Regions from separate parts of the Homo sapiens genome. Here regions 2, 3 and 4 are each linked to region 1. Evidence: fine-mapped expression QTL. A gene starts in region 1. Each other region holds a variant in brackets. All regions are shown on one strand. Distances are between the middles of the regions.

Evidence for each region.
Region 2: its variant is fine-mapped to the expression of CCSER2 in whole blood (INTERVAL, PIP above 0.99).
Region 3: its variant is fine-mapped to the expression of CCSER2 in B cells (Fairfax 2012, PIP 0.95).
Region 4: its variant is fine-mapped to the expression of CCSER2 in whole blood (INTERVAL, PIP above 0.99).

What each region holds. Positions count from the first base shown.
Region 1 is chr10:84,324,605-84,332,301 of GRCh38, reverse strand. It overlaps CCSER2 (coiled-coil serine rich protein 2), which reads right to left and starts at 3,713. Exons shown (of 10, transcript NM_001284240.2): 1 at 3,494-3,713. RefSeq lists enhancers at 1,693-1,772, 2,820-3,169 and a silencer at 3,220-3,949.
Region 2 is chr10:84,365,345-84,373,041 of GRCh38, reverse strand. It overlaps CCSER2 (coiled-coil serine rich protein 2), which reads right to left. Exons shown (of 10, transcript NM_001284240.2): 2 at 573-2,028. The coding sequence starts at 1,989. Among named protein-coding and RNA genes, the nearest start is that of CCSER2, 41 kb to the right of the region's middle. The variant T/A (reference allele first, on the strand shown) is at 4,386.
Region 3 is chr10:84,457,197-84,464,893 of GRCh38, reverse strand. It overlaps CCSER2 (coiled-coil serine rich protein 2), which reads right to left. Exons shown (of 10, transcript NM_001284240.2): 7 at 878-961. Among named protein-coding and RNA genes, the nearest start is that of CCSER2, 130 kb to the right of the region's middle. RefSeq lists an enhancer at 1-307. The variant T/AT (reference allele first, on the strand shown) is at 4,638.
Region 4 is chr10:84,517,890-84,525,586 of GRCh38, reverse strand. It overlaps CCSER2 (coiled-coil serine rich protein 2), which reads right to left. Exons shown (of 10, transcript NM_001284240.2): 10 at 7,070-7,697. Among named protein-coding and RNA genes, the nearest start is that of CCSER2, 190 kb to the right of the region's middle. RefSeq lists an enhancer at 1-466. The variant C/A (reference allele first, on the strand shown) is at 3,792.

The DNA of each region.
Region 1 (7,697 bases):
GGTGAGAAGATTCCAATAAATTTATGGACGATGGACAAATAAAGGAGAAAATAAAACTAGAAGAATACTGCATTTGCTTGTCTATTATGGACTATGATGTTAAACTGCAAGGAACCTTATCCTCATTTTTAAAAAACAAACTTTTAAAAGCAAAAACCTATAAAGTATGATAGAAATGGTCAACCAAACTCTACTGGAGTCTGTAAATCAATATCTTTTAGAAGTAAATCTAGTAATATTTTTCAGAATTAACAAAACCTTCATACCCTCTGACTTTGTAATACTGCTCCTGGGCCTTTAGCCCAAAGGGAAGAAGCAAAATGATAAACAGCTATATACTAACGGCATTATCTGCAAAATAGTAAACAATCTAGATGTCCAATTATTAAGAAATGACATTGTAACACTGTATAATCATCTAAAGGTATAAAAACTATAGCAAAAATAAAACATCAAATATGAAAGCAAATATTAAGCATTATGTGTATGCTTTATCATATAAAACCACTGATATGACAAGAAATAAGAAGAAAAATTAAGTTTGTTTTGATTTTTAAAATTTCTTTGACCATTGTTTGTAAGATAAAAAGCCTTTTGGAATTGGTCAGGCCCACACCACTAAGTACACATTTCAACTTTTTAGAGACAGCCACAATCATCAATTTTTTCCCCCAAAATCCTATCACATAGGAGTAAGATAGGCTCCTCTCACAGACAAGCCACACAAGTAATTTTAGCCATGCTATTAGCCAGCTGCAACCTTCTTATATTAAAATCTCATTGTACCATCAAAACTTAACTGTATGTGAGATGTCCATATGGTGATCAGAAGCCACTTGTTATGGGGCATCTGGAGAGAGCGCCCCAAGCACTGAAGTTAAAACTATCTGGCTGAGAGGAATAGTGAAGGTTAGGTTTCTCCCATATCCCCAAATGAATTATCATGTTTCTCAGCCACAAGGGTTCTAAGTCCCTAGGAGTGGCAGCCATGTATTCAAAGAGGGAGAAAGTGCAAGCAGATTTGCACTCCCTCTGAAAAACTGGCAGCTCCTTCATTTCACCCCAAAGCACCATGGAGTAGTGAAAAACACACAATGATGAGGTCAGGAGATATGAGATGTAGGTGAGCCTAAGCAATCTCAAACAAGTTGTCTTTTTAGGCTGAGTTGTTTAACCGTAAAATTTTTAAAGTTGAACCAAATAATCTGTTAATTCTTTCAAGTTCAATATTCTATTGACCCTTTTTTCAGAACACATCCAAGTCGCTCACAACTCCCATTCAAATTGTAAAACAATTAAGATTTAGAATTAGGAGACTGGGGGCAAAAGTGAAATACACAGATGGTCAAAAGACCTGGACTGTAATCCCCGCCATCCCTTTCTACCTGCGTGACTTTGCGCCTCAAAATAAAGTTGTAGGACCAATGAAGCAGCAATCTTTATTGGTCATGCCCTTTTTATTCCTGTATCATAAAATGGATTTTTTTTAACATAACTGGGGTTTCATTCCTAACCAGCCTACAATCCCAGCACTTTGGGAGGCCGAGGTGGGCGGATCACGAGGTCAGGAGTTTGAGACCAGTCTGGCCAACATACTGAAACCCGTCTCTACTAAAAAAAAATTAGCCAGGTGTGGTGGTGTGTGCCTATAATTCCAGCTACTCAGGAGGCTGAGGCAAGAGAATCGCATGAACCCAGGAAGCAGAAGTTGCAGTGAGCCGAGATGAGGCCATTGCACTCCAGCCCAGGCCACAGTGCAAGACTCTGTCTCAAAAAACACAAAAGAAACCCCAAAACCTGGTGGAGACAGACACATAAACAAATCATTAACTACCAGTTGACAAATACTAACTGGAGAGTGTACGAATCAGTTAAGACAAGAGGGATGAAATGTCTAGACAAGCCTCAGAAGTGCTACTTTCGTAAGGTCTTCAAGGGCAAGTTGTTTACTAGGTAGAGAATTCTCAACAAAGAACACTGAAAAACCACAGAGGAAGATGTCATCTTCAGAGAACTGCAACAGTCTTATATAGAGAGGGCAGGCATAATGGTAGAAGATGACACTAGAATGGAGACAAATACCGCTAATCATGAAGGACTTTGAATTTTATCGATATAGACTATGGAGAGTCACTGAAGGACTTGTAAATATGGATTCAAAGTCCCTTCCTCCAAAATAGTCAAAGGAGTTGAGTCAAAGCAACAAAAAATGCAGGTCTGAATGTGGAAAGGTAGAATTTTTACAGAATTCTTAATAGAGACTTTCGGCTTGCTTTCAGGATGGCTTCTAGTGCTTTCTTAACTATGGCTTATGCTGAAGTACGACAGTATGAATTATGGCTAAAGGGTTCAACAAAGTGTGCATTTTTAACCTGAAGATTATTTGAAGCCAATGTTGTTTAGAACACAAACGAAAACAAAAAATAACAGTAACAAGCTTTCATAAATTAAGAGAAACAGTAATAAAGTCCAAGAGGAAGAAGACTGATTTCAGGCAAACACTCAGGAATATTTACATTTTTATCACATATGGATGACGGATAAGACATGTTTTGAACCCATCTTTTGCAGGAGAGCATCTTAAGTTCCTTTTGGTTAAAGAGCAGCTGCCATCTCTAAAGTCTCTAGTCTAAAAGATGATGCTTTAAAAAAAACAACTGGCCAAATGAATAGGTTCCGTCATATTTTAATGCTCAGGAGAAAAGGAATGCTTTTCATATGGCTATTTTAAAAAGCTTAAAGCTCAATTTCTCTCTTACAGGAGTGAGCTACCAACACTCTAATCTGAGACCAGAGTCCCTGCGTCAGTCATTTCCACTCCGCTAAGGCCTTGTCTGGGAGCAGCCAGCCTCATTGGTCGGGGAGCCCACACAGATGAATATGCAATTACTGAAATGGAAACAAGCTTCGCCACCAAGGACCACCACAAAGGAGTCCCTTCATTCCTCCTTTTACTTTATCAAGAAAGTAGGTGCATTATTTAAAAATGTATGAAAATACATGTCTAAAGACAAGAGAGAAGATCTGAACCTACGGCAACGGTGTGCCCCACCAAAGTTTCACCTCAGGATGTGTTTTAGGGTGTGTCTTTCATTTAGCCCAGTAATTGAAAGAAAAAAAAAATCGAACTCATTCGGGGAGCCCCGGTACTTTCCCTATCCACCCTCACACGCAACCAGGCTCCGAAATCAGAGTGCCTCAGCCTCGCCCTGATTTCTCCTGAAAGGCGGCGGCGCCCGCGGCCCGAGGCCCCGCGCTGTCACAGCCGCAGGGAGGGCGCCCTCCGGCCTCCCGGGTCCGCGCCCGCCCCGCGTCCGGCGGCTCGCGAGGGGCTAGAGAGGCTCACCCTGGAGGCCGGGTACGGGAGGGCGACACCGCCTCAGCCCGGGAGTTCGGGCCTCCGCCCCGCCCCGGACTGCGTGCCTGGTCTTGGGCTGCCCCCGGCGCCCGCCGCGACCCCGGCCCCGGCTCTGGCCCTGAGCCCGGATCTCACCGTGCGGAGGTCGCGCTGCCTCCTCGGCCGCGGCCCAGCTGCAGGCCGCCCTGCGACCTGCGGGCCCGAGGACGGAAGGTGAGACGAAGGGCCGCCCGTCACATCCCCGCCAGCCCCGCCGCCCGAGCCGCAGCAACCAGCATCGCGTCCGCGGCCTGAGGGAGCGCCGGACTCCAAAGCCGCCGCGCCCCCTCCCTCGGCCGGCGCCCGCCCGGACTCCGCCCTCCAGGGCCGGCGCACCGCGCACGCGCAGTCCCGCCCCGCCGCGGGCCCGTGCGCAGGCGCGAGCCTCACGGGGCTACGGGGACCGCCCCCACCGCCTGATCCGGCCTCAGCCCACCTCTGGCCCCGCCCCGCCCTCACGCCAGGCTTTCCCAAGCTCCGCCTCCGCTTCGGGCCCCGCCCCCTCCACTGACCTTGCCTGGCCGCCTCCTGACTCAGGTTTTTGCTGGGCCCACGCAGTGACGCCAGTCTTGCGGCTGACCTCACCTCTAGCCGTCCCCTGGACTACATTTGCTGCTTGAGTGCGGTCAAACCTGACAGCTCCTCCTCCTGGATGTGAAAAGTGAGGAGTGGTCTGAGCATTGGGCATGACTGAACCACGCACCTGCCTACCGCATCAAAACACAGGATCTTGCTAAAGCTGAGGGGAAGGGGCACCCCAAGTGCTGATCTGGTTTTCCCTTTTTTTTTTTTTTTTTGAAACAGAGTCTCGCCCTGTCACCCAGGTTGGAGTTCGGTGGCGCTATCACAGCTCACTTGCAGCCTCCTGGGCTTAAGCGATCCTCTCGCCTCAGGCGTGTATCACCAAGCCTCCGAAATAATTACAACTAAGACCACACTAGTCAAAGTAAACTATCACAAGTTGACCCAAATACCCGGCTAATTTTTATTTTTTCTTTTTAGAGTTGGGGGAAGTGGTCTTACAGGCTAGTCTCAAACTCCTGGGCTCAAGCAATCCTCCCACCTTGGCCTCCCAAAGTGTTGGGATTACAGGCGTGAGCCACAGCTCCTGGCCAATGTGGTTTCTTTGCCAGAAACCAGGTCTTTCTTCCCTTTGGGGCTTCCATCCCCCAGAGGCCATCTCTTCCCCTCTTGTTTTTCCTCGACGCGGCCAGTCCTGCTGCTGAGAGTCCTCAGCCTGGAAGGCTTCCGGGCCTGGCCGGCTGTTTAAAGCTCTGGAGTTGCCCTTACCTGGTTGTAGACTTGCAGTTCTCTGAAATCCTCGTCGGCCCCAACAGCTCGGTTGTAATAACATTTCAGGAGAACTGCTTGAAAAATATCCAGTTCTTTCCTGTCTCCAGATCAATGATACTCAAATGGAAAAAGCAGACGGAATGCCTGATTTGTATAACCACACTTCATTTAATAATACACTTTCATATTTAGAAAATAATGTCTTTTAAATATCAATCCCTAAGATATTTAATGTATTGGACAATAATGTGTGCTTAAAATATTGACAAAGACTAGGTCTAAATGCTGTGCAATCTCTCTTTGGATTAAGTGAGATTAGAAAAGCAAACACCAGGCCGGAGGCGATGGCTCAAGCCTGTAACCCCAGCACTTTGGGAGGCCAAGGTGGGAGGATCACAAGGTCAGGAGTTCAAGACCAGGCTGGCCAATATGGTGAAATCCCGTCTCTACTAAAAATACCAACAAATTAGCCGGGCGTGGTGGCGCATTCCTGTAATCCCAGCTACTTAGGAGGCTGACGCAGGAGAATTGCTTGAACCTGGGAGGTGGAGGTTGCGGTGAGATGAGATCATGCCACTGCACTCCAGCCTGGGCGGCAGAGTGAGACTCCATCTCAAAAATAAAATAAAATAAAATAAAATGCCCAGGCCAGTTGTGGTGGCTCACGACTGTAACCTCAACACTTTGAGAGGCTGAGGCGGGAGGATCACTTGAGCCTAGGAGTTCAAGATCAGCCTGGGCAACATAGAGACCTAGTCTATTAAAAAAAAAAGAAATTAACCAGGCTTAGTGGCATATGCCTGTAGTTCCAGCTATTCAGAAGGCTGAGGCAGTAAGATTACTTAAGCCCAGGAGGTTGAGACTACAGTGAGCTGTGATCATGTCACTGCACTCCAGCCTGAGTGACAGAGCAAGACCCTGTCTCCAAAAAAAAAAAAAAAAAAAAAGAAGGCTAGGAAAAAACTTTCCCATAATGCTAATACATGTACATACTTAGCAGAATCACAATAGCATTTTAGTGTATTTTCCTAATTTTATAAGCATCCTTGATACGTTTTATTTGCTTTCAGTTAATTTTCCTGGGTCTTTTCTTTTTTTTTTGAGATGGAATCTTGCTCTGTCACCCACACTGGAGTGCAGTGGTGAGATCTGGGCTCACTGCAGCCTCCACCTCCCAGGTTCTGCGATTCTCCTGCCTCAGCCTTCCAAATAGCTGGGATTACAGGCATGTGCCACCACGCCGAGCTAATTTTTGTATTTTTAATAGAGACAGGATTTCACCATGTTGGCCAGGCTGGCCTCAAACTCTTGACCTCAAGTGATCCGCCCGCTTCGGCCTCTGCTGGGATTACAGGTGTGAGCTACCGTGCCCGGCCTGCCCTTCCTCCATCTTCAAAACCTGCAAGAGTAGTTTGAGTCCTTCCCACATTGCATCACTCTGACCTCCTCTTCTGTCTCAGTCTTCCACTTTTAAGGACACATGATTATGTTGGGTCCAACTGGATGCTCTAGAATAAGAACCTTATTTTAAGGCCAGTTGATTAACAGCCTTAATTCCATCTGCAACCTAAATTCTCCTTTTTTGGCATCCTCTTGATGTAAGAGAGAGACATTCTTTCAGGGGAAGTTTTAGGATTCCATGACAAACAGCACAATGAAACAGTTGATCCAGAGCCCCAGTAGGAGATGATTCTGGAGACCATCCAAAAACAGACAAGTTGGGTGCAGTCCCACACACCTGTAATTCCAGCTACTTGTGAGGTTGAGGCTGGAGGATTGCCTGAGGCCAGGAGTTCAAGCCCCACCTGGGCAACATAGCAAGACCCTGTCTCTAAGAAAAAAAAAAATACAACAGACAAGAATCTCTGATGAAATCTCCTGGCTAGGCATGGTGGCTCAAGCAAGAGCTTTGGGTGGCCAAGGCAGGAGGATAACTTGAGGCCAGGAGTGTGACCAGCCTGGGCAACATGGTGAGAACCCCCCATCTCTACAAAAATAAAAAATAATAAAAGTTAGCTGGATGTAGTGGTGCACACTTGTAGTTCTAGCTACTCAGGAGGCTGAGGTGGAAGAATTGCTTGAACTCAGGAGTTTGAGGCTGCAGTGAGCTATGATTGCACCACTGCACTCCAGCCTGGGCAGCAGTGAGATCCCATCTGTAAATAAATAAGATTAAAAGAGAAATCTCCCCCTTTCATCTCACAAATATTTACTGAGCATCCACAGGCACTGTTCTGGATTAAGTCATGAACAAGGACAGGAGTCAATGGGATTGATTTTCTAGAAGAAATCACCAGTTCTTCACAGAAGGCAGTCTGATGATGGGAACTCTCGGCTCCCACAATCACAGAAAGTTTTCCTTGTTGGCCCTAATTTCGAAGACTTTGCATGCCTTGATGCCTTCTGGATCTAGAATCCAGCAACAAGGAGCATCTTTACCAGTAAAAGACAGAGTATCCACAAACTGGCCTCCTGGTGAAGATGTAGAAAGCCTGCTTCTCAGCTGTGAAGATGACAAACGGGAACAAAGTAGAATGAATTCCTTCTTTTCATTCCCTAAATTGATTGGCGAGGCCCAGAAAGATGAAAAATAATGTGTTAGTCAGGGTTCTCTAGAGGGACCGAACTAATAGGATAGATGTATATATGAAAGGTTGTTTATTATGGAGTATTGACTCACACGATTGCAAGGTGAAGTCTCACAATAGGCCATCTGCAAGATGAGAAGCAAGGAAGCCAGTCCGAGTCCCAAAGCCTCAAAAGTAGGGAAGGCGACAGTGCAGCCTTCAGTCTGTGGCCAAAGGTCCAAGAGCCCCTGGCAAATCACTGGTGTAAGTCCAAGAGTCCAAAAGCTGAAGAACTTGGAGTCTGATGTTTGAGGGCAGGAAGCATGCAGCATGGGAGAAAGATGAAGACCAGAAGACTCAGCAAGTCTAGTCCTTCCGTCTTCTCCTGCCTGCCTTATTCTAGCCGTGCTGGCAGCTGATTAGATGGTGCCCACCCGAAT
Region 2 (7,697 bases), 41 kb before region 1:
TAGTAACAGGATAACCAAACATAAGAGGAAATGTTTAACAGGTATTATTTCACTTTCTTCAGTTTAATAAATAAATAAAGCTCTCTCAGGAAGTGTATCTAAAAAATTGCTAAACAAGAAGAATTTTCTAGGATAAAAAAATCCGTGAGATTAGACATAACCTATATTATCTCATTGTACCCTTTGGTACAGCTTTACTCTTAACAAATAGCAATGAAATGCTATCCTAAGAGAAGAGATGGTTTGTTTAATGGCATACCACACTGGTTGAGGTAAGCAGGGGAAGTCATTTAGAAGCACTGCATATACTAAGCAGGAATAGGCTGTGTATAACAGCCAAAGAACAACAAAGGTTAAGAGTGGTTTTATTAATATTGTCTTGGATAGGGTGAAAAATGGGGTATGGAGCAAAAGTCACAGGAAAATAAACGTTAACCCACCTCAATTTTGTCTAGATCTATCCCTCCGTGAAACTGATAATATCTTGAAATCTATCTGAAGATAATCCTAAATGTAAGTTCAGTTATATTATTTAAAAGAAAGCAAAAAAACTTAAGGTAAGTAATATTTACCAGAGACACTTATATCTATCCATTCATCAGTTTTACTGAAGGCTTTTTCATTTTCCTTGGGGGAATCAAACATATCCTGTGGTGGCCCATTTTCATGTTTCTCTTCTTTGAGAGACATTTCCTCTGGAGTTATTCTAGTTCTGTTGGAGTCTTCTATATCTATAAAATCATCACTAAAGTCTTCACTTAAATCATTCTTATCAGAAGATGACAAAGACGACAAGGAAATGTCATCCACATCATCACTCAGGTATCTCATTTTAGCATCATGTTTCATGGTCTGGTTGTTTTTTGTTCTATAACTTTCATTTTCAATCAGTTCTTGGTCCTTATTAGCAGCTCTGTCCTTAGCCAAAACTGTAGCATCTTCCTCTACACATGTGTCAGCAGGTGAATTTTTATTTCCATCAACTGTCATAGTCCCAGAAAATGGAGATCGGCTAGATTTCAGTAGAGAGGGATGAACCATTCTATAACCTAAAGTAGAAGTTACACCTGGGCCATTTGGTAAAGCCAACTTCTTTCCACCAGCAGCATAAGGCCTATTAAATCCATACCCCAAATGTTCATTCCCATTGAGTACTTCTGGCTGCCGGGAATTTCTTGTTAGCATACTTGACCGTAGAGGCACTCTAATGGATAGCTGTTGGTTCTGATAAGGCTTTGTAAGATCCACAGCTCTATTAAAGGAATGTGATCTGGTTATAGATGAAGGTGGAAGGAATGAATTCTGAATGGAATGTGAAAAACTTTGTGACCTTACCATTTTTTCACAATTAATAGATTTACTACTGTCTGGGGATTGAGCTAAGCTTTCTCCAGAACTGCTTCTGGTGGCACAGGAGTTCGCTCTAGGCCTTTGCATGCTACCAGCTGATCGGTTTCCATAAAATCCATTCAACTGTGATTTTGGAGTATTGATCGAAGAATATGAAGTCCTTCCTAATAATGTGCCTTTGGTGAATTTACCCAAATTAGATGGTCCAGAAAAAGACTTTTGGTTTAACTCCTCTGTAGATGACACAAACATAGTGGATGGCTTTGCTAACTTTGATGTGAATAAAGAAACACTTTTCAAACCTCCCTTTATCCCATTTTTATCAAACATTCCTTGAGTAGGAACACGTTTTTCAGGATCAATTATTTTATCATGTGAATTTTGAGTATTGTTAGGCTCTTCGACACCTTGTGCACAAAGCTGATATTTATTTGCTTTCCTCCAATTAAATGAATGAGATGATGGACAATCAGAGCCATTATTTTTGATGTAACTTTTGACATTACTATTCTTGGAAGTTCCTAATAAATTAACAGGTGTCCCATTTGGCATTGGCTGCAATGTACTTCTTACAGATTTTGTTCCATACTTTGGCAACTTGGAACCCAAAAATGTCTTGATTTGTGTTTTTTCTTCCATGAGCTATAAGGTGCATTTGTTCTTAAAAGTTGAAAGAATCTGTGAAGAGAAAAAAGAAGTACATTAAACATTCCTAAATAAGGATAATTACATGAATTATTACATAATATGATACTTACACTTTTATACGCAGAAAAACCCAAAAGCTACTCATGATTCCTACAGAACTCCTGGCAAATACCGAATGCACTAATTAAATTAATAACTTTATGTTGGAAGAAAATAAAGAACATTTTTATAAACTTTTATAAATGTATGCTATGAATGACAGCAAAATCTAGAAATAAAATTAAACCACCAAATTTGACTATGTAAAAAATAATACTTACAGAGTACTTCTTCCAATTTCCAATCCAAATAATTTTTTCATTTTGGGTAAAAGTCTCTCCTTTAAAAATAAGAACATATGGAAAGCCACAGCCAGTGCACTCAGGCAAGAGAATGAAATAAAAGGCATTCAGATTGGAAAAGAAGAAGTCAAACTATCTCTGTTTGCCAATGATATGATTATATATCTAGAAAATCCTACGGACTCCTCCAAAAGATTCCAAGATTTGATAAATCCAGTAAAGTCACAGGTTGCAAAATCAAAGTACACAAATCAGTAGCATACCAACAATGACTAAGCTGAGAATCAAGAACTCAATCCCTTTGACCATAGCTGCAAAAAAATAAAATAAAATACCTAGGTATACTTAACCAAGGAAGTAAAAGATCTCTACAAGGAGAAGTGCAAAACACTTCTGAAAGAAATCACAGACAATGCAAACGAATGGAAATACATCCCACACTCATGCATTAGAGGAATCCATATCATGAAAATGACCATGCTGCCCAAAGCAGTCTACAGATTCAATGCAATTTGTATCGAAATACCAACATCATTTTTCCCAGAATTAGACAAAACAATCCTAAAATTCATATGGAACCAAAAAACAATCTTAAACAAAAAACCAAATCTGGAGGCATCACATTACTCAACTTCAAATTATACTACAAGGCTACTATAGTAACAAAAACAGCATGGTACTGGTATAAAAGTACATACATAGAGCAAAGGAACAGAGTAGAGAACCCAGAAATAAAGCCAAATACAATCAACTGACCTTTGACAAAGCATACATAAATGAAAATTGGGAAAAGAACGCCTTATTCAATAAATGTTGCCAGGAAAACTGGATAGCCACATGTAGAAGAATGAAATTGGATCCCTATCTCTTACCATATACAAAAATCAACCAAGATGGATTTAAGACTTAAATCCAAGGCATGAAACCATAAAAATGCTAGAAGAAAACCTAGGAAAAACTCTTCTGGATATTGGTCTAGGCAAAGAATTTACGACTAAGACACAAAAAGCAAATGCAACAAAAAAATAAATGAGACCTAATTAAACTAAAAAGCTTCTGCTCAGCAAAAAATAATCAGAGTAAACAGACAACCCACAGAATGGGAGAAAATACTTGCAAACTATGCATCTAACAAAAGATTAGTATCCAGAATCTATAAGGAACTCCAACTAATCTGCAAGGAAAAAAATAATCCCATCAAAAAGTGGGCAAATAACATCAACAAACATTTTTCAAAAGAAGGTATACAATGACCAAGAAACATGAAAAAAAAATGCTCAACATCACTAATCATCAGGGACGTGCAAATTAAAACCACAATGAGATATCACCTTATCCCAGCCAGAATGGCTATTATTAAAAAGTCAAAAAACAATAGATATTGGCATAGATGTGATGAAAAGGGAACATTTAGGTACTGCTGGTGGTAATGTAAATTAGTACTACCTCTATGGGAAACAGTATGTAGATTTCTCAAAGAACTAAATCTACCATTTGATCCAGCAATCTCACTACTGGGTATCTACCCAAAGGAAAACTGTATCAAAAAAAAAAAAAACCTGCATATGTATGTTTATCACAGCAAAATTCACAATTGCCAGATGTGGAACCAACCTAAGTACCCATCAACCAATGAGTGAATTAAAAAAATACACCATGGAATACTACTCAGCCATAAAAAAGAATGAAATAATATCTTTTGAAGCAACGTGGATGGAGATGGAGGCCATTATTCTGAAGTAATTCAGGAATGAAAAACCAAATACCACATGTTCTTACTTGTAATTAAGAGCTAAGTTATGGGTATGCAAAGGCATACAGAGAGGAATAATGGACACTGGAGACTCAGAAAGGGGGATGATGGGAGAGGGATGAGAGATTTTTTAAAAACTACACAATGTAGTAGGGTACAATGTATACTATTCGGGTGGCACGTGCACTAAAATCTCAGACTTCACCACTACACAATTCATTCATGCAGCCAAAAATCACCTGTTCCCTTAAAGCCAGTGAAATAAAAGGTAATTAAAGAACATATTATTTTTT[T/A]AAAAAAATACATGGTTTTATAAAAGCTAGAAGACATTCGAAAAACCTTAATTACTAAAGTCATGAGAATTTTTTTTTATTTTTAAAACAACTGATTCCAAGTCAACCCTGGCCTAAGAAGTAGAGTTCCTATAATACATGTTATTATGTCAAAAGTAAATATTTAGAAAATCGTACAAATGTTCAAGTATAGAGTGAAAAAAGACTAAAGAACGTCCTGTTACCAACAACTAAGAGATATATATATATATTTGTGTGTATGTGGTTTTTTTCAGCAGAAAACCTATCAGTTACACACTGTAATACAAAAAACTATTTAAACTAAGAACTTATAAAGTTTAAAAAGTAGCGGACAGAAAAAAATTCTGTATGGTACAGTATGACTGGCAGCCTGATTACTGCCTGGAAGCAGTAGTGAGAAAGAAATGTGAACTAAAAAACTTGAAAATTTTAAGAAATACCTCTAGTTTGGATAGAAAAAATTTGATTTGCCATGCCCTACAAAAGTTGAGGAAAAATATCCCGAGCACAGAGGCTTCAAAACCTAGGCAGAGGCATCACCAGGATCTGCCAACTTCTAAGTCCCTATACTGAGTTGAGGGAAGGATCTGAAGCCCATAGACATGTACTGTACCCTCAGCAGTATGAAATGAGACTGGTATAGGACATTTAACGCAATCTAAGGAGATGGGAAAGCATAGGGCCACAGAAGGGCAAAAGCGAAGTCTTGACCTAGGTATCCAAATTAAGCCTGAGCAAGACAAAAAGAAATGCCCATACAATCATATAAACAGTTTCTTGTAACACAGAACAACCTAATAAGAACATGCATCTAATGAAACAAAAGCCCAAAGATGAAAAGACAAAACAGGTAAATTGAAAAGAAAGGCTTCAGCGTTAAGGAAACCAATTAAGAAGAACAATGAATTTGAAAGAAAAAAAAAAAAAAGCAAGGAAAAGAAGCAAAGACTTAAACAAATGGCAAGGAGAAAAATCTTAAGGTAACAAGAGTATATCGAGGAGGCTAAGGTGGGTTGATCACTTGAGACCAGGAGTGTGAGACCAGCCTGGACAACATGGCAAAACCTCATCTCTACAAAAAAAATACAAGAATTAGCCAGGCATGGTGGCACACACCTGTTGTCCCAGCTACTCAGAAGGCTAAAGCGGGAAGATCAACTGAGCCCACGAGGTTGAGGCTGCAGTGAGCCGTGATCAAGCCACTGCGCTCCAGCCTGGCTGAAAGAGTGAGACCCTGTTTCAAAAAAAAAAAAGTATCGAGGAGAAAAAAAAGACAAAGATATTGAATTAGAAAGAAAATGTAGGACAAAGGCTGAACAGAAAGATAATTAGTATCCCTGAAGTAGAATAACTAATTAAATGGAAGAGAAAAGGCAGGAGGACATAATAGAAAATATCCCTAAAATAAAGGTGAAAAAAAATCTATGGAGGGAAAGAAAAAATATATCAAATCACAGATGCAAATACGTATCCTATTTAAGTTAATGAAATACCAAGGATAAAGAAATAATTCTCCAGAAATACAAGTAGAGAAAAAAAATCACCTTTAAAAAATTTTTTAAACTTGGAATATACAAAGGAAATAACTGGATAACCTTCCAAAGAAATGCTGGAGCCTCTGGGGATAACTTAATCCTGTAGGAATCACATTAATTTTACCATTAAAAATTTATTCTAAATTCACCACTTCCATTCCACAATTCTAGTTCTTATGCTCATCATTTCTTCCTGTACTACTACCAAGGATTCCTACATTTGTCAAGATTCCAACCTTACTTCTATTCAAACTGTCAGCAGTTATCTTCTTAAAGCAAAGATCTGGATCACGTCATTCTACTGATTAAAAACCATCTGTGAGACTAGGAACAACAAAATAAAACCCAAAACTCATTGTACAGGGAGCAAGCTACTCTATTTGATTCTACCTTATCCTTGTTATATACTTAAGCCAAGATACGTTATTTGTCATTGCCCAAAATCCATCCTATATTTTCTAACTTCTTTGCCTTTGCTAAAGACCCCTTGGAAGATTCTATCCTCAAAGTCCAAAATCACCACATCCACCAACATTTCCAGTTAAAATTAATCTTACATCATTCTCTATTCTCTTCACAGCAATAATATAGCTGAGTTTGTCTTCTAATTGTGTGCATGTCTATTTGACCCACAGGAAAGTAAACCTGCTGAGAACATAAACTAAGTCTTATATACTGTACTTTGAGGCCAGCTACAGGACTACAAATTTAATAGATCCTCAACTTTTAAGTAAATTCATAATCTCTTAATGTAAATTAATTCAACAGTAAGGAAAGACTAAAAAAGAACTTTGTTTTGTGGACCTGTGATTGACTGGTAATAGCTCCCTTGGGCAATATGTTGAAAAGGATTCCGAGGCCGGGCACAGTGGCTCACACCTGTAATCTCAACAGTTTGGGAAGCTGAGGCGAAAGGATCGCTTGAGCTCAGGAGTTGAAGGCCATACTGAGCAACATAGTGAGACCTCATCTCTACTAAAAATTTAACATTAAAATTTTTAAAAAACAAAAAGGATGCTGAGGTCAAATCTAGCTTCTGAAGTAGTGACATGATCAAGCAGCAATGTTTGCCAGGAGCAGAGCAAGGGACAGTGGCAATATCCATGCCAGACAACTGTCTTCCTCATTTTTGATAATGGTCTTTTCCACAAAACATACTACCATACCCACAACCACTTTCGGTATAAACATAAGAAAACTGGTATTGATATTACATATTAGGGTCATTTTGCAAATCAATAAATAATACATGTTAAAGATTAAAGAGCCTGTGAGTCAGAAAGGCTTTAACATTTCCCCGCCTGTCACAAGTAGACCACGGAAAGAAAATTATATTCTTTCCTTTCTCTATGCCTCTATTTTCCTGCCTAAGATGAGGGTAATACATGTTATCTCCCAAGAGCATCTTCAGTATTAATAACTTAGAGGCACAAGATGAGCCCACAAGAGAGACACACTGTTACTGGTGTTTGTGGTTCCACCAGTTTGTGGGGGAAAAGAATAATGTTAGAACCTGAATGTGCTATTCTCTATGAAGAATAACGATTTCTAAATGTACAAATAATTGCAACACAAATCACATCAATCATCTTGAACTTTGGTCTTAAGATAAACTAGTCTGACAGCTCCACTATGAAGTTTACGTTATGAATATTATCACTTCATTCGTTGATGAGCTACCATCTGTCTTTAAAAGTTCATGAAATTTTCCCTTATATTTGCTTATAATTTTGAAATAAAATAAAATAGACATTGT
Region 3 (7,697 bases), 130 kb before region 1:
TCTGCCCTATTAATTCCAGGCCTGGCCCCTTGAATTGTTTTGAAAGTGATATGTGCCACATCCAAGCAGAATTCACATGTGATCCTATCAAAGTTCTCTTCCCACTGGCACAATAACATGTCCCACAATAGGGGCTGATCCGTCTCAGTATGGATCCCAGAATGAGGAAGACACATGAAGCAGAGTCCCAGCTGATCTACAGCCAATATGTAAGTGAAATATAAATTTCATTATTATAAGCCACCATTGCTTTCAGGTTGTTACTGTAGATGACTAGCAAACACTAATAAGTGTACCCTGAAAATGGGATGTAAAAGCTAACTATAACTTGACTTGGAAACATTAAATTAACCAAGAATCTCTGTGTGTGCTTAAGAAATAAATATGTGCTTAAATAGTTGCAAAATAAAAGAGTTTTCTTCAACTAAAAATAGACATAAATAAGAATTATAAAAAAACACTTTCACTCACAAAAATACATCTGTATTCTGTATTTTTAAACATGAAAAAAGAAATTAATCTCATTTTCAGTATACTTCTTCAATTTTGGGATTTATATATGAGAAGCACCTATAACCATTTTAACTTTCATTCCTACTCATATTTTAAAAACTCTTATCATTTATCATTATGAGCAATATATTTTCTTTTTAAATCCTGCAACAGTAGTAATACAAGGACAGATCATTATCCAACTGATAAATTCAAATTAAAGCACCACAGAGATATCATTTCAACTTAACAAAGTAGCAAAAGTTAAGAACAAACCTGATGCTTTAGGTATTAATACATTTATTATTGTTTTCATTGTCATTGTATCATTATTTTAGTATTTAAAAAGAATTTTGAAAAATCCAGCATGACTACATAGTCATACCTTATATACTTTATCACCATCTTCTGGTTCTGGACTGGATGGCAATGACAGTTGAATATCATGCAATGAACCACTTCCATCATGCTGTCAGAAAGAAGGGAAGAAAAACACTAGATTAATATAGTAATTGTGGACATTCAGTTCAACCTGAATTTACCCAGACCAAATGCTAGCATGGTGAAGACCAAATGCTAGCATGGTGAAGAACAAATGGGAGACAAAATTTTAGAAATCTTCATTTCCCCTATATATACTGTTAGAAGGAAATGTGGAAGAAGAAAAAAGGGAGCTACGGCAAGAATAATCTGTGGAAGTAAATAACGGATACTATATAAGCGGCTGAAATACAGAACCATTAAGCATTATGAGAAATTTCCTAAAGAATTTTAAGACTGTTTCACCTAGGAAAAGTGTAAAACAAAGGTCAACTGAATCTGCTTTGGTTTAGACATGTTTTGAGTACCAAGGAGCCATAAACAATAATATTAAGTAACCCAGTAAGGCTTAGCAGCAAAAATAACTGAATTAAAAATACTAGCTACATGAGGATATATATCACATAACTCCATTTATATGAAGTCTGAGAAAAGGCAAAACTAATCTATGGTGTTAGAAATCAGAAGAATGATGGTAGACTAAAGGGAAGGGGGTTACTGACTAAGAAGGAACATTAGGGAACCTAGTAGGAAGCTGGAAATGTTCTATGTCCTGAGTGTACGGTAGTTAAACATACATATGAAAAGCTTGAGCTGTACACTTAAGATTGGTACACCTTAACCACTTTACTGGATGTATCTCATGCCTCAAAAAAGGCTGAAATAAAGATTTTTGTTCCAAAACATTATAAATAAAATAGGATGACAATACTAAGTTCCACCCTTTGCTGAACTGGTTTAGTACTAAGAAACCACATGCTCAATGGTTCAGAAAGACAGCCTCAAGAAAAATGAACCAGTGAAGAATATAACTGGATGACGTGCTACCTTGATCAGGACTGAGCCCCTGACTAAGGCAGCACAACTGAGGTTCAACACCTTATTTGTTCATGATTCCTGGCTGCCTCAGTAAACCCAGTGACTGAACCAGCAACCTTCAAGGAACATAACATTGCAATCTTCCTCAGATATATCTTTTCTGGTTCTCCCATACCATGGATAATGTCTACAATAGGGGAGGTGAGCATGCAGGTTATTTTCTTCTTAATTTATTGTACTGTATACCCACTGACACAGAATCTCTAGGGATGGGGCCCAGAATTTCTAAATGTGTATTTAGGGCAGTTCAAAAGGTAATGCTGATTGACAGTCAAGAGAGTAAGTGTTTGCCAAATTTCCAGCATAGATAAATTACTTTTCTATGGTGGTGTCAAATGGACATTAAGACTTTGATCTAAGAACATAGGCAACATTCTAATGAATAGCAATATTCTCGGAACACATTTTTAAAAATTAAGAAATAAAGAAAGTAAAGTGAGTTTTACAGGACTCATCTCAGTAAAAAGTTCATCTCCGTTATTACTGCCTAGACATATAAAAGCATCGCCAGTCCTACCTACAAGTATATTTGAGAAGAGAGACAGACTGTAAAATTTGAATTATTTCCAAATATCTAAATGTCTTCTTCCCAACTGCAATGCAGGAACCCCAAGGAATATGAGACAACACAAGCACATACTGCTTTGCATTAAATGCAGGTGCACTTGTGGGAAGTGTACAGCAGAATAGAAAAAATAAAACAACAGCATTAAGGATAGAGGAAAAAAGAGAAGTCCAGCAAAACAGAAAATACCAGAGGTCACAAAATACCAGGAACTGAGTAAAGTAGCTCCATAAAGCTGTTGTAAATTCATCGGTTCATCCCTGAGCAGCACTTGCTTGGATCTGATCCTAAACAGCATAGCAAAGACTTTGAAAAATAACCTAAGATCACTTCCCAGGTCCCAGACTAGCCTCTGGAAGATGTATACTCAGAACAGATCTGGAAAGCATGGCAAAAGCTTTGAAAACAGAGCTGGCATTAAAACCACAATCAAGACAGCTAGCTGTACCTTGTAGCCTAAACTCAACCACATTGTTTGCCTGTTTAAAAACAAAATAAAATAAAGATTTAAAGAAGATCAGGAATCTCATTATACAACGTTCAAATATCTAATATATAATCCAAAATTACTCAACATCTAAACAGAGGAGAAAATGTCAACTCACAAAGGAAAAGACAATCAAAAAACACCAACACCAAAATGACACAGAAGGTAGAACTGGAAGAGATTTTAACAGAGCTGTTATTAAAATTCTCCAAAAGAATAAACTCTTGAAGGGACTACAAAGAGAAAATCTCAGGGGGAAAAAAAAAAAACAGAATATAAAAAGTAGAAACAAATGGAGATTTTAGACCTGAAAAGAGTCAAAAACCAAAATTTTAAAATGCACTATTGATGGGCTAAATACTAGCATTTCAGATTATACAATAAACTTAAAGAGTGATCAACAAAAATTATCCAATCTGAATGATGAAGAGCAACAAGATTGGTCAAAAAAAATTGACAGAGCCTGCTCAGGAACATATGCGGACAGTAATAAAAGAGCTAACACTCCTGTCATTGAAGTCACAGAAGGATAGGGGTGGGCAGAAAAAATATTTCAAGAAATAATGGATAAACACACCCCGAATTTGGTGAAAGACACAAACCTACAGATTTGAGAAACCAAATTTAAAAGAACTAAAAATACACCAAACATATGCTCTCTGAATATAAGAGAATTTAACTAGAAACTAATAACAGAAAGATAATCTCCATACACTTGAAAAGTAGACAACCTTCTAAATCATCCTTGGGTCAAAGAAGAAGTCTCAAGAAAAACAAGAAAATATTGTGAATTGAAGGAAAATAACAGACACCACATACCAAAATTTGTGGAATGCAACTAAAGCAGAGTGATAAGGGAAAATTATAGAATGAAATACTTTTATTAAAACAAAGGTGTCAAATCAATAACTGGAGCAAAATAAATGTACAACAAGCAGAAAGAAGAAAATAATCAAGAGCAGAAATTAATGAAACTGAAAATTAAAAAACACAAACAAATCAATGAAACTAAAAACACTTTCTTTGAAAATTGCTAGACATCTAGCAAAACTGCCAAAATGCAAAAAAGAAAGCACAAATCAAAACATTATCAGGAATGAAAGCAGAAATATCATTACAGACATCTCAAATGCTAAGAGTAAATAAAGCAATAATAATATGAATGACTCTACACACACAAATTTGACAACTTATGTGAAGTGGCAAAATTCCTCAAAAGCAACAAACTCTTGAAACTCACCTAAGATGAAATAGATAAGCTGTGTAAACATATGACTACTAATAAAAATGAATTCATGGTTTAAAGCCTCTCACTAAAAAAAAAAAAATCTGAGGCCAGATGTTTTACTGGCAAATTGTTCCAAAATTTAAGAGAATAACATCAATTCTATACAACCACTTAGAGAAAAATCAAATTAAATTAATAAAATCAATTAATGAGGCCATTAATTGCACTTCCCTGATACTAAAACAAAGACAGTATAAGAAGACTACAGATCAATATTCTTCATGTATAAGGATGCAGAAGTCTTTTAAAAAATCTCACACATGTAATCCCAGCACTTTGGGAGGCCAAGACGGGGGGGATCACCTGAGGTCAGGAGTTTGAGATGAGCCTGGCCAACATGGCGAAACCCCATTTCTACTAAAAATATGAAAAAAAAAAAAAAAAAA[T/AT]CAGCCGGGCATGGTGGCGCATGCCCATAGTCCCAGCTACTCAGGAGGCCAAGGCAGGAGAATTGCTTGAACCTGGGAGGCAGAGGTTGCAGTGAACCAAGACTGCACCCCCGCACTCCAGCCTGGGCAACAGAGTGAGACTCTGTCTCAAAAAAAAAAAAAAAAAAAATCGAAGAATCAAAACCAACAATATGTAAAAAGGGAAATACACCATGAGCAACTGAGGTTGATCCCACCAATGCAAAGCTGGTTCAATAGTCAGAAAGCAATGTAATTCACCAAATTGAGAAATAAAAGGTCTGCACAATTATCTCAATAGACTACACAGATAAATTTCCTGGCAAAATTCAATATCCAATCAGGATTTAAAAAAAACTCAGAAAGCTAGGAATAAAAGAACTTGCTCAACCTGATAAAGTTCATCCAAAAAACCCACCAGGCATGGTGGCTCATGCCTGTAACCCCAGTACTTTGGGTGGCCAAGAGGGGCAGGTCGCTTGAGCCCAAGAGTTCAAGACCATTCTGGGCAGCATGCTAAAACTCTGTCTCTACCAAAACTATAAAAAATTAGCCAGGTGTGGTGGGATGCACCTGTAGTCCCAGCTAATTGGGAGAATGAGGTGGGAGAATCACCTGAGCCTGGGAAGTCAAGGCTGTGGTCAGTCATGACTGTGCCACTGCACTCCAGCCTGGGTAACAGAAGGAGATCCTGTCTCTGATTCCCCCCCAAAACCAAACCAAAACAAAACAAAACATCCTACCAGTAACATCATATTTAATGGTGAAACATGGAATATTCTACCCCAAGACCAGGAACAAGGCACTCCTATTCAATATCATAGTGGAGTTTCTATCCAGTGCAATAAGGCAAGAAAAAGAAATAAAAGGCGAACGAATAGGAAAGAAAAAAATAAAATAACCTCATTTAGACACAGAATGTATGGTGTAGAAAGTCCCTTAAGTATCTATAATAAAAGTACTAGAAATTTGGGAGGCTGAGGCAGGCAGACCACATGAGGTCAGGAATTCAAGAACACCCTGGCCATCATGGCAAAACTCCATCTCTACTAAAAATACAAAAATTAACCAAGCGTGGTGGCACATGCCTGTAATTCCAGCTACTCAGGAGGCTGACGCAGGAGAATCGCTTGAATCCAGGAAGCAGGGGTTGCAGTGAGCTGAGATCGTGCCACTGCATTCCAGTCTGGGCAACACAGCGAGAACGTCTCAAAGACAAAAACAAAAACTACTAGAACTAGTACATGAATTTAGCAAAATCACAGGATACAAGGTCAATATACAAAAATCAACTGTGTATGGCAAACAACTGAAAATTGAATTTAAAAAAAACTACCATTTATGATAAAGCAAAATCCAAAAGACAAGGGAAAAAAATCCAAAATAACAAAAGAGAAATACTTAGGTACAAATCCAACAAAACACAGACTCTGTATATTAAATATATAGGTTGATTTCTTTCACATATATGTATATACATATATGTGTATGTATATATGTGTATATGTGAAGGAATATATGTGTGTGTATATGTGAAAGAAATCAGAGAGAACTAAATAAATGGAGATATCCTCTGTTCATGAATGGAAAGATTAAATATTGTTGAGATATCAATTCTCTTCCAAACTCAACTGGAGATTCAGTATTCTCCCTATCAAAATCCCAGCAGAATTTATTTTTTGTAGAAATAGAAACGCTGCTTCTAAAATTTACATGAAAAGGCAAAAGAACTAAAATAGTCAAACAATTCTGAAAAGAGAAAGTTGGAAGAGTCACACTACTTAAAGACTTACTATAAAGCTCCAGTAATCAAGAGAAAGTGATAATAGCAAAAAGATAAACATACATCAATGGAAAGAAAAGAGTCCAGAAACAGACCCACACATTTATGGTCAAAGGCATTTCTGACAAAATTACAAAGGCAAAACACTACAGAAACAATATTCTTTCCAACCAATGGTGCTAGAACAACTGAACATACACGTGATAAAAATAATCTTGGCCCATAACTCATACCACATACAAAAACTCTTCAAACAGATTATACACCTAAGTTTCAAACTTAAAACTATAAAACTTATCCACTTAAACATAGAAAATCTTTGCAATCTTGGGTTGAGCAAAGATTTCTTAGACCAAAACATGATCTATGGAAAAAATGGTGGCAAAAAAATGATAAATTTTACTTCAAGAGCAGAACTTTTGCTCTCACACCTGTAATCCCAGCCTTTTGGGAGGCCGAAGCAGGCGGATCACCTGAGGTCAGGAGTTCTGAGACCAGCCTGGCCAACATGGTAAAACCCCATCTCTACGGAAAAAAATACAAAAAATTAGCTGGGCGTGGTGGCATTCGCCTGTAATCCCAGCTACTCCAGAGGCTGAGACAGGAGAATCACTTGAACCAGGGAAGTGGAAGTTGCAGTGAGCCTAGATCACACCACTGCACTCTAGCCTGGGCAACAGAGCAAGACTCTGTCTCCAAAAACAAAAACAAAAACAAACAAACAAAATTTTATATATTTATATATAATATAATTATATATAAATATATATAATTTATATAATAACTAAAATTAAAAATAATATAATTATATATAATTATATATAATATATAAATATATAATTATATATAATATATAAATATATAATTATATATAATATATAAATATAAATTTATATATAATAATATACATTATATATAATTATACATATATTATATATAAATATATATGATTGCAGATACTTTCTTCCAGTCCATGTCTTTTATATATATATTATATATTTTATAATATGTATTTATATATAAATATAATTTTAAATATATTTTTTAAAATATATATTTAAATAAATATATATTTAAAATATATATTTAAAATAAATATATATATTATATATAATATATAATATATTATATATAATATATTATATATAACATATTATATATAATATATAATATATAATATATTATATATAATATATTTTATATAATATATAATATATAATATATTTATATATAATATGTAATATATATATAAAAGAAGA
Region 4 (7,697 bases), 190 kb before region 1:
TAATCGAGCTGAACCCTAGTCGCTGGGTTCCACAGTTCTCTGCCGTGACCCACGGCTTCTAATAGAGCTATAACACTCACTGCATGGCCCAAGATTCCATTCCTTGGAATCCATGAGGCCAAGAATCCCAGGTCAGAGAACAAGAGGCTTGCCGCTATCTTGGTAGCGGCCTGCCACCATCTTGAGAGCTCTGGGAGCAAGGACCCCCTGGTAACACTCCTAATGTGCATGTGGGTCCTTAGCTTGAGTTACTCCACATTGTTTTGTTCCCCTTACTGTGCACGTGTCAGGGGACAGAATTTTCCATTGCAGGCATGTCTAGACAAATCTCCTGTATAGCCGCTCTTATCTGTGAGGCTGTGGGCATGTCTCAGGCTAGCCCCACTGTGCAAGGTCTCTTATCTGTGCCTGCAGGCTGTTCTTTTGTCTGAAAGAACTCAACCCAGGACCCCCCTTAATTGCCTGCCTGATGGGTTTCTTCCTTCCTCCTCTCTCAATATGTCCAAAGACTTACACATAAACGTTGCTAGCAGTAGTATTCATAATTGCCAAAAATTAGAAACAATGTAAATGTCTACAAACTGGTGAATGAATAGACAAAATAAAGTATGCTCATATAATGGAATATTATTCAACAATAAAAATGATGTGATTCATGCTATGATTTTTGGTGAACTTCAAAATTGTTATGCTAAGTGGAAGAAAGCAGACACAGAGAATACATCTGATATGATTTTATTTATGTGAAAGGTCCAGAAAAAGCAAATAAATAGAGACAAAAAGTAGATGATGCTTGGCTTAATCAAGAGGGGGCAGAGATTAACAGTTGGGGTAATGGAAATATTCTAATATTCTAAATGGCAAAGGTTGCACACTTGGTAAACTTACTAAAAAATCTTTTTTTTTTTTTTTTGAGACAGGGTCTCACTTTGTCACCCAGGCTGGAGTGCAGTGGTGTAATCACAGCTCACTGCAGCCTTGACCTCCTGGGCTCAAGTGATCCTCCCACCTCAGGCTGTCAAGTAGCTGAGACCACAGGTGCATGTCACCCCAGGCTCAGCTAATTTTTTTATTATAAAAAATCTCTTAATTGTATACTTGGAATAAATTATATATGTAAAATGTGCTTCAATAAAGTAATGACTCTTCAAACAAACAAACAAACAAAAAACAGTAAAATGAGACCACACAGCTTTTGAAAACTAACCTACTTGAAAAAAAATGGTTTGGCAAGCACAGTGGCTCATGCTGTAATCTCAGCATTTTGGGAGGCCAAAGTGGGTGGATCACCTGAGGTCAGGAGTACAAAGCCAGCCTGGCCAACATGGTAAAACCCCAGTCTCTACAAAAAAAAAAAAAAAAAAAAAATTAGCCAGGAGTGGTGGCGGGCGCCTGTAATCCCAGCTACTCAGGAGGCTGAGGCAGGAGAATCCCTTGAACCCGGGATGTGGAGGTTGCAGTGAGCCAAGATCGCACCACTGCACTCAAGCCTGGGTGATAGAGTGAGACTCCATCTCAAAAAAATAAAATAAAATAAACATTTAAAAAATGGCTTATCATCTCACCAGTGAGTGTTGAGTGGGGATGGGGATGGGGTGGCTTACAGGGCCTGATGCCTTATGCAAAGATGTGTCTTCAAATGTAATTTATAATGTGTAATGCAAAGGACTGAGGGAAACTGGGCAAAATTCTTTTGACTATTGGGAATACTCAGAAGCGGGAGTGACAGAGCACAGACAACATGGATTAAAAGATGCTAAGAAGAGTGTTCCCATCTTGCCTGCTCTAAGGCAGAAGAGGATAAAGAGCAGCTTCCCCCGCAGCCCAAATCCCTGTGCACAGAGCCTGACCTGGCCAGCACAAGTCTCTGCTCTCCCCTCCAGCCTGGCAGAGAGCCAGACAGTGAATGTACACGGTGCATAAAACACTTGCCTTTGATGTTCTGAGGTTGTCACAGGGCGGGGGGTTGGGAGGGGCTGCGGGGAGGGCAGTATTCAGAAGAAAAGAAAAAAAAATCCCATTTTCTCAGGCAGAGAAAAATGGTCACATAACTTTGCAGTTAAAAGTTATTAGAAAAGTGGTGGTGAAGTGTGGTTACAGAAAATTAAATATTGATAAAAAGAGAAAAGTAGTTGTTGTGGGAAAAATTTTACTTCTTTGTACAAAAGAAGTCAATACCTGCTTGGATTTTAACACAGTTGCTTGCTTTAGGATTCCTTTTCCTGTCCTATTTCTTTCATGCAGTCTTGTGTGTTTGCTCCTTAAGGAAGGAAGCTCTGACCAGGCCTTGTGCTGCTGAGAGCTGGGCAACTGGACTCTAGTAGGCTTTCCCCACTCACCCCAAACCAGAGTAGCACTGGCTTAGCTTTAAGGAAACCATAAGTAAACGTTATAATTAAAGGTTAAGGTCTCCTTCCGTGGCTCGAAACCAGTGAGCAGAATTAGATGGCCTGTTCTTTAGCTCATCCCAGCCTGGGAGGCAGGAGGCAGCAGAGCAGTGGCTGAACAAACCAGAGGAATCCTCAATCCTGTAACTAGTGTGTGGGGCAAAGCCCTGGGATCTGTCTTTTCTGGTTTCCAGCACCACAAGCCATGCTATAAAAATGTGTTCAATGCAATTTGCATTCCGTCACACTACGCACTAAGGTCCAGTTAATATACTAAGAGTTGACATCCCACAGCAAACAGCCCTCATGCAGCAGGACGCTGGAAAGGACTTGTCAGTCTATAAAGATTTTGTTTAGGGCACTCCTATTTGGGATGGTGTAGACGGAACTGATGACTAATAAGAAAATACTACACAAAGAACACAGAGAAGGGTTGACATAAATAAGGACGAATCTCTCCAAGCTTCCATGCTAAGGGAACAAACTATTCAAGTTTGGCAGAAATAGATTTTGTCACTGACAGTGGACGGATCCTGATTCATAAGGTAATGTGTTCCCAACCCCAATTACCAGAACAAAAAAAGGAGTAAAACAATAATGCAGTCTTACTAGTTTTGAGGTTAGGGAGATAGGCCATTTGCTATGTCATTGAATAAGTGACTTAAAATTTTCTGAAACATCATCCCATGATGACAAAGACCACTCATTAAATCTGTGGCAAGGGAGATTAATTATTGGATGCCTATACGCCAGGTGCCTTACAAATGTTGCCTGGGCAACAGAAATGACCCTGTTATTAAACACACAGACATACACATGCAATTTTGATTATAAGAGCATAGTCTCACCATTTTTAAAAAACAGAAAATATATAAAAAGATTAAAAAATGGCCAATAATTCAGCCATTAAGAAGTTATTCTTTTATATAGGTATTTATAAGCATATATGTATTCACATTGTACTACATTCATGGATTCGTAAATTTGCTTTTGTCCTCAGTTGTAATATGAATATTTTGAATAAATATTGTTATACATATTTTGAGTAAATATTCCCCAAGAGCATTAGCTGACTGTGGCATCATCTTGTCATATAAATAATGTAATCATTCTCCTACTGTCAGACTTTTTTTTTCCAATGCTCCACTCTTTTAAACAGTTCTTTGCATGTAAAGGTATGTAAGTAGCACGCCATTCTGTTTTGCATCTCTTTGACTAATAGCAAAAATCATTAATTTGTTCTGTTATATTGGCCCTTTGTACTTTGGTGGTTTGTTCTGTGACTTCAGTAATGCTTCTTGTAATATTCACAAATAGTTCTAAGTCCATGGTCTCCTTTGCTTCCCCCTTGAATTCTTTACGAGCTCTGAAAGGCAGGAAAGCACTGTGTGCTCTGCTTTCCTT[C/A]CCTTAGTTGAAATTTTTCTTAGAATGAGAGTAGTCAGACCAAGGACCAGGGTTCTGAGTGCCCAGGTCTGGCCCAAACCCTTTCCCAAACACCTCCTGTGAGCTCTGACTAGTCCTGAATCTTTGAACCTGGTGGAGGCGGCCCCTGGCAGCAGGGAGTTTAGAGCATCTGTGTTTGCATCTCAGCAAAACTCTGGAACACAATTTAAGAAACCATTTGCATTAACAATCCATCACAACTCCTATTACTTTTGTTTTTCATTGCAATTCACATTTGCACTTGACCTACTATAAATGCAAAACCTCAGCTAAAACTTGTGAAAATTTTTTAAATTCCTGATAATTCAGAAGTATTTTGAACTGATACGTGCTTAAAAAGGCCTCAGGTTCGTGGAATGTATCGTTACCACTACAGGTTATGTGATAGTGGCCTAGTTTTTATTTAGCTGTAATTAAAAAGAAATCCTAACACACATGCACATTTGTCAAGGATGAATGGTTTTGGAAGCGAGTTCACCTGTGGTCCCAAACGTCCCCTTCCTGCCCACTGGCTCTCTTACAGTGCTTTGTTTGGGATCCTTCTTGTCATGTTGCAATTTGATCTCTTCAATCGCAGGGTCTCCGTCTCATCCACCTCCTGCCACGAGACAGAAACGAGGGCTGTGCACAAAACAAGCATTTCAACCATGTTTCTTGTGGGGAATAGTTACCTTTCACTTTAGTAGACTGATATTTCAGGTATACTTTTGCTGCAGAAAGCATTTGTTCTGTAATCACTTAAAGTATTACCAAAGGATTATTCATACTCAAAATGGGTGTCTGAATGAATTCATGTGAGGATTAAGGAGTGGGTTGTTTTGAGATCTGGAAAGTAGCAATACCATTTTTCAGGTTGAGAAACCAGAGAAGTGCCTGTGAGGAACTGTTTCTTCCTCTCTGATTTTTGCACAGAAAAGATGCTAATTTGAGGGCTGTGTGCATGGGTGGGTGGGAGAATTCATCAGTGAGGAAAAGGCTTCTCTGGATGACCTAAATTCCTCCTTAGAGACTCCATGGCAAGAAATGGTAGGAAACCAGCAACAACATGAATGAAACTGGAGGTCATTATGTGAAATAAGCCACATACAGGAAGACAAATGTTGCACATTCTCACTCATGTGGAAGATAAAAAAGAAATGATCTAACAGAGGTAGAGAGTAGAATAGTGGTTACCAAAGGCTGGAAAGGGTGGTGGGGAGGTGGGATAAAGAGGGGATGGTTAATGGGTACAAAAATACAGTTAGAATGAATAGGACCTAGTGTTCAGTAGCACAGTACAGTGACCATAGTTAACAATAATTTATTGTATATTTCAAAATAACCAGAAGAGTAGTATTGAAATATTCCTAGCACAAAGAAATAAATGAGGCAATGGATATCCCAATTACACAGATTATAGTGTATGCTTGTATCGAAATAACAGGTATTTAATAAATATGTATAATTATTATATATCCATAAAAATTAAAAATTAAAATAGAAACTGAAAACATCAAGTAGACCATATTATATTTGATCTATCCAAGAGAATGGGATGGAAGGAAAAGCCCGGACATGAATTTGAATGTTAAAGGTAGACTTCAGAAAGCAACATCTTATGGGTTGAGGTTCTAAAAGGGACAGTGGCCTTAGGATAGTCGAGAAGTCTTAAAATCAAATTCCAAGAACCTAAAGTAGAAAGCAGAGTATTTAATAGTGGCTAAAGAGGAAGTTCGTTCTTGGATAAAATAATAAAAGGCCAGGTTTTCTAGGGAAATGAAGGCATGCAACCAAACAAGAATAAACATAATATAGAATCCAAGAGGAGAATAGTGCAAGGGAGTTAAAGCCCAGAATGAAATGAAACTGAAGAGGAAACGTCAAAAGAGACTGGTAGGTTCAAAGGAAGATAATAAACAGGGAATGCAAGGGAAGGGCTCAGTGCTGCAATGGATCGGATGATGTTAAAAATCCCCTAGGGTTCCTAAGCTCCATAAGGCAGAACCTGTATCATCGTTACCTTTGTACACCCTGCAGCCAGCACAGCAAGTGACACAGGTAAGACATCCCATCAAACTTACTTAAACCAAGTTAACAGAGGAAGAAGTCAATTCTTTAACTCATGCTTGTCTTTTCTGTAGGGATAAAATATTTTCACAATGGAAAACGCGCAATCAACAGCATAAATGAAGAAACTGAAATGACTACACTTAATGACAAAATTAAAAGGGAAAATTTTTAGTATAAGAAAGTACTTGCTAATGATAGATGCAGAAGGCCAATAAGGGGGAGGGTCCTCAGAGAATCTCCAACCAGCTTGTGCACTGGGAGAACTGGGTGGAGCCACGGGAAGTTCCAGCCTTGGGCAGGAGGGAAGAGCCTGAGCTCTTCAGCTCACATGTGTGGTGGCCTGGAACTTATCTGTGAGGTGGGGGCCTGTTAGCAGGATTCCCCCCTTGCTTTGCTGAGTTTTTTTTTCCTTTTTGCCCAATGAATTCCATTCCCCACACACTTCAATGTGTCCATGTGTCTACATTTTCCTGGTCCTGACACAAGAACCCCGATTTAGCCGACCTAAGGAGCAAAATTCTGCAACACTAAGAACTCAGATGGCCTTAAAGTTCATACAGGTGTCTTAAGAGGTAATAAGTGCTATTATCAAACTATTAATAAAATTTCCCTCCTTTCCCAGAATTCGTGTAAACATTTTGGATTAATAACATACCACTGCATCAACTTTTTTGTCTCTTATTACGGGACTATCGCATCTGACTAAACTGTAAAACTGAAAAAATATATATTCCTTACTCCTTTTGTTCCTAAAAATTATGTAAAATTTCACTAAACACCTTTCTTGCCTCAAGCTATTTTGTATACTGCTTAAAAACAATGACAAAATAATTAAAATTACAAGTGTTTTCTTCCTTGTACAGCATTCTAAATCCAAGGTGCTAATGTTTCTTGAAATGTCCATTAACCATTATCCCAATATTCTAAGATAAAGCAGGTATTTTATTACAATGGAAACGAAAGTACTAGATCTCTTACAGAATTTGTGAAGACACAACAACAAAATACTGATCAACTCCTACTCAATCAGGGCTTGGGGTGTCAAGATGTGTGTGAAGGCAGCATGTAAAATAAAGTATCAGAGTTGGGAAAAACATAAGCAAATGAACAGTATCTTAGATCTTTGTGGGAAAAAAGATATCAAAGAAAAAGCAAACTATGGGAGTCAATGTTGAGAAAGACAAGAGAACTTTTATAATTATGAACTTTATTTTTATTTACTATGCCAACATTTTCAGGAGAGACTTTACATCTGCTTTTTAGAATTCATTTTACAGGCAAATTCTAATATACAGTTTGTACTCTAAACTGACTTAAAATCAATGGGAAAAACAATACTGCAGATATTATTTTTGCTCTTTGTTAGTAATGACTTAGAGACCTTACATTCTCGGGTATTATTTTGTTAAGTAAACGCTTTACCAAGGAGAAAGTGGGTAAGCTTATTCCCAACAAGATTAAAACATGTATCTTCAGTTAATGACATAGTTGTAGATTGGTGCCCACCATCAGAATCATTTAATCAAAAGTACTCTCTCAAATTGCTGCAGCAAAAACTTAAAGGGAGATGTGAAAAATCACTAGAAAATAGAATTCAAGCATCAGAATTTAAAAAGGAACAAGGCCATCATCCCCAAGGAAAAACATCGGGTAGTACAGCTATAATTAATTTTCAAATGTGTGCTTAAGCATGCAAACATAACCACCCAAACGAATTTAAAAACACAAAAACTACTGGGTAAGATGGAAAGTAAATTGAAATGGTGCTGCAGCCTTATTGATCTTAATTGCAAGCCTGTTCGGTGATTTCAAAGTACA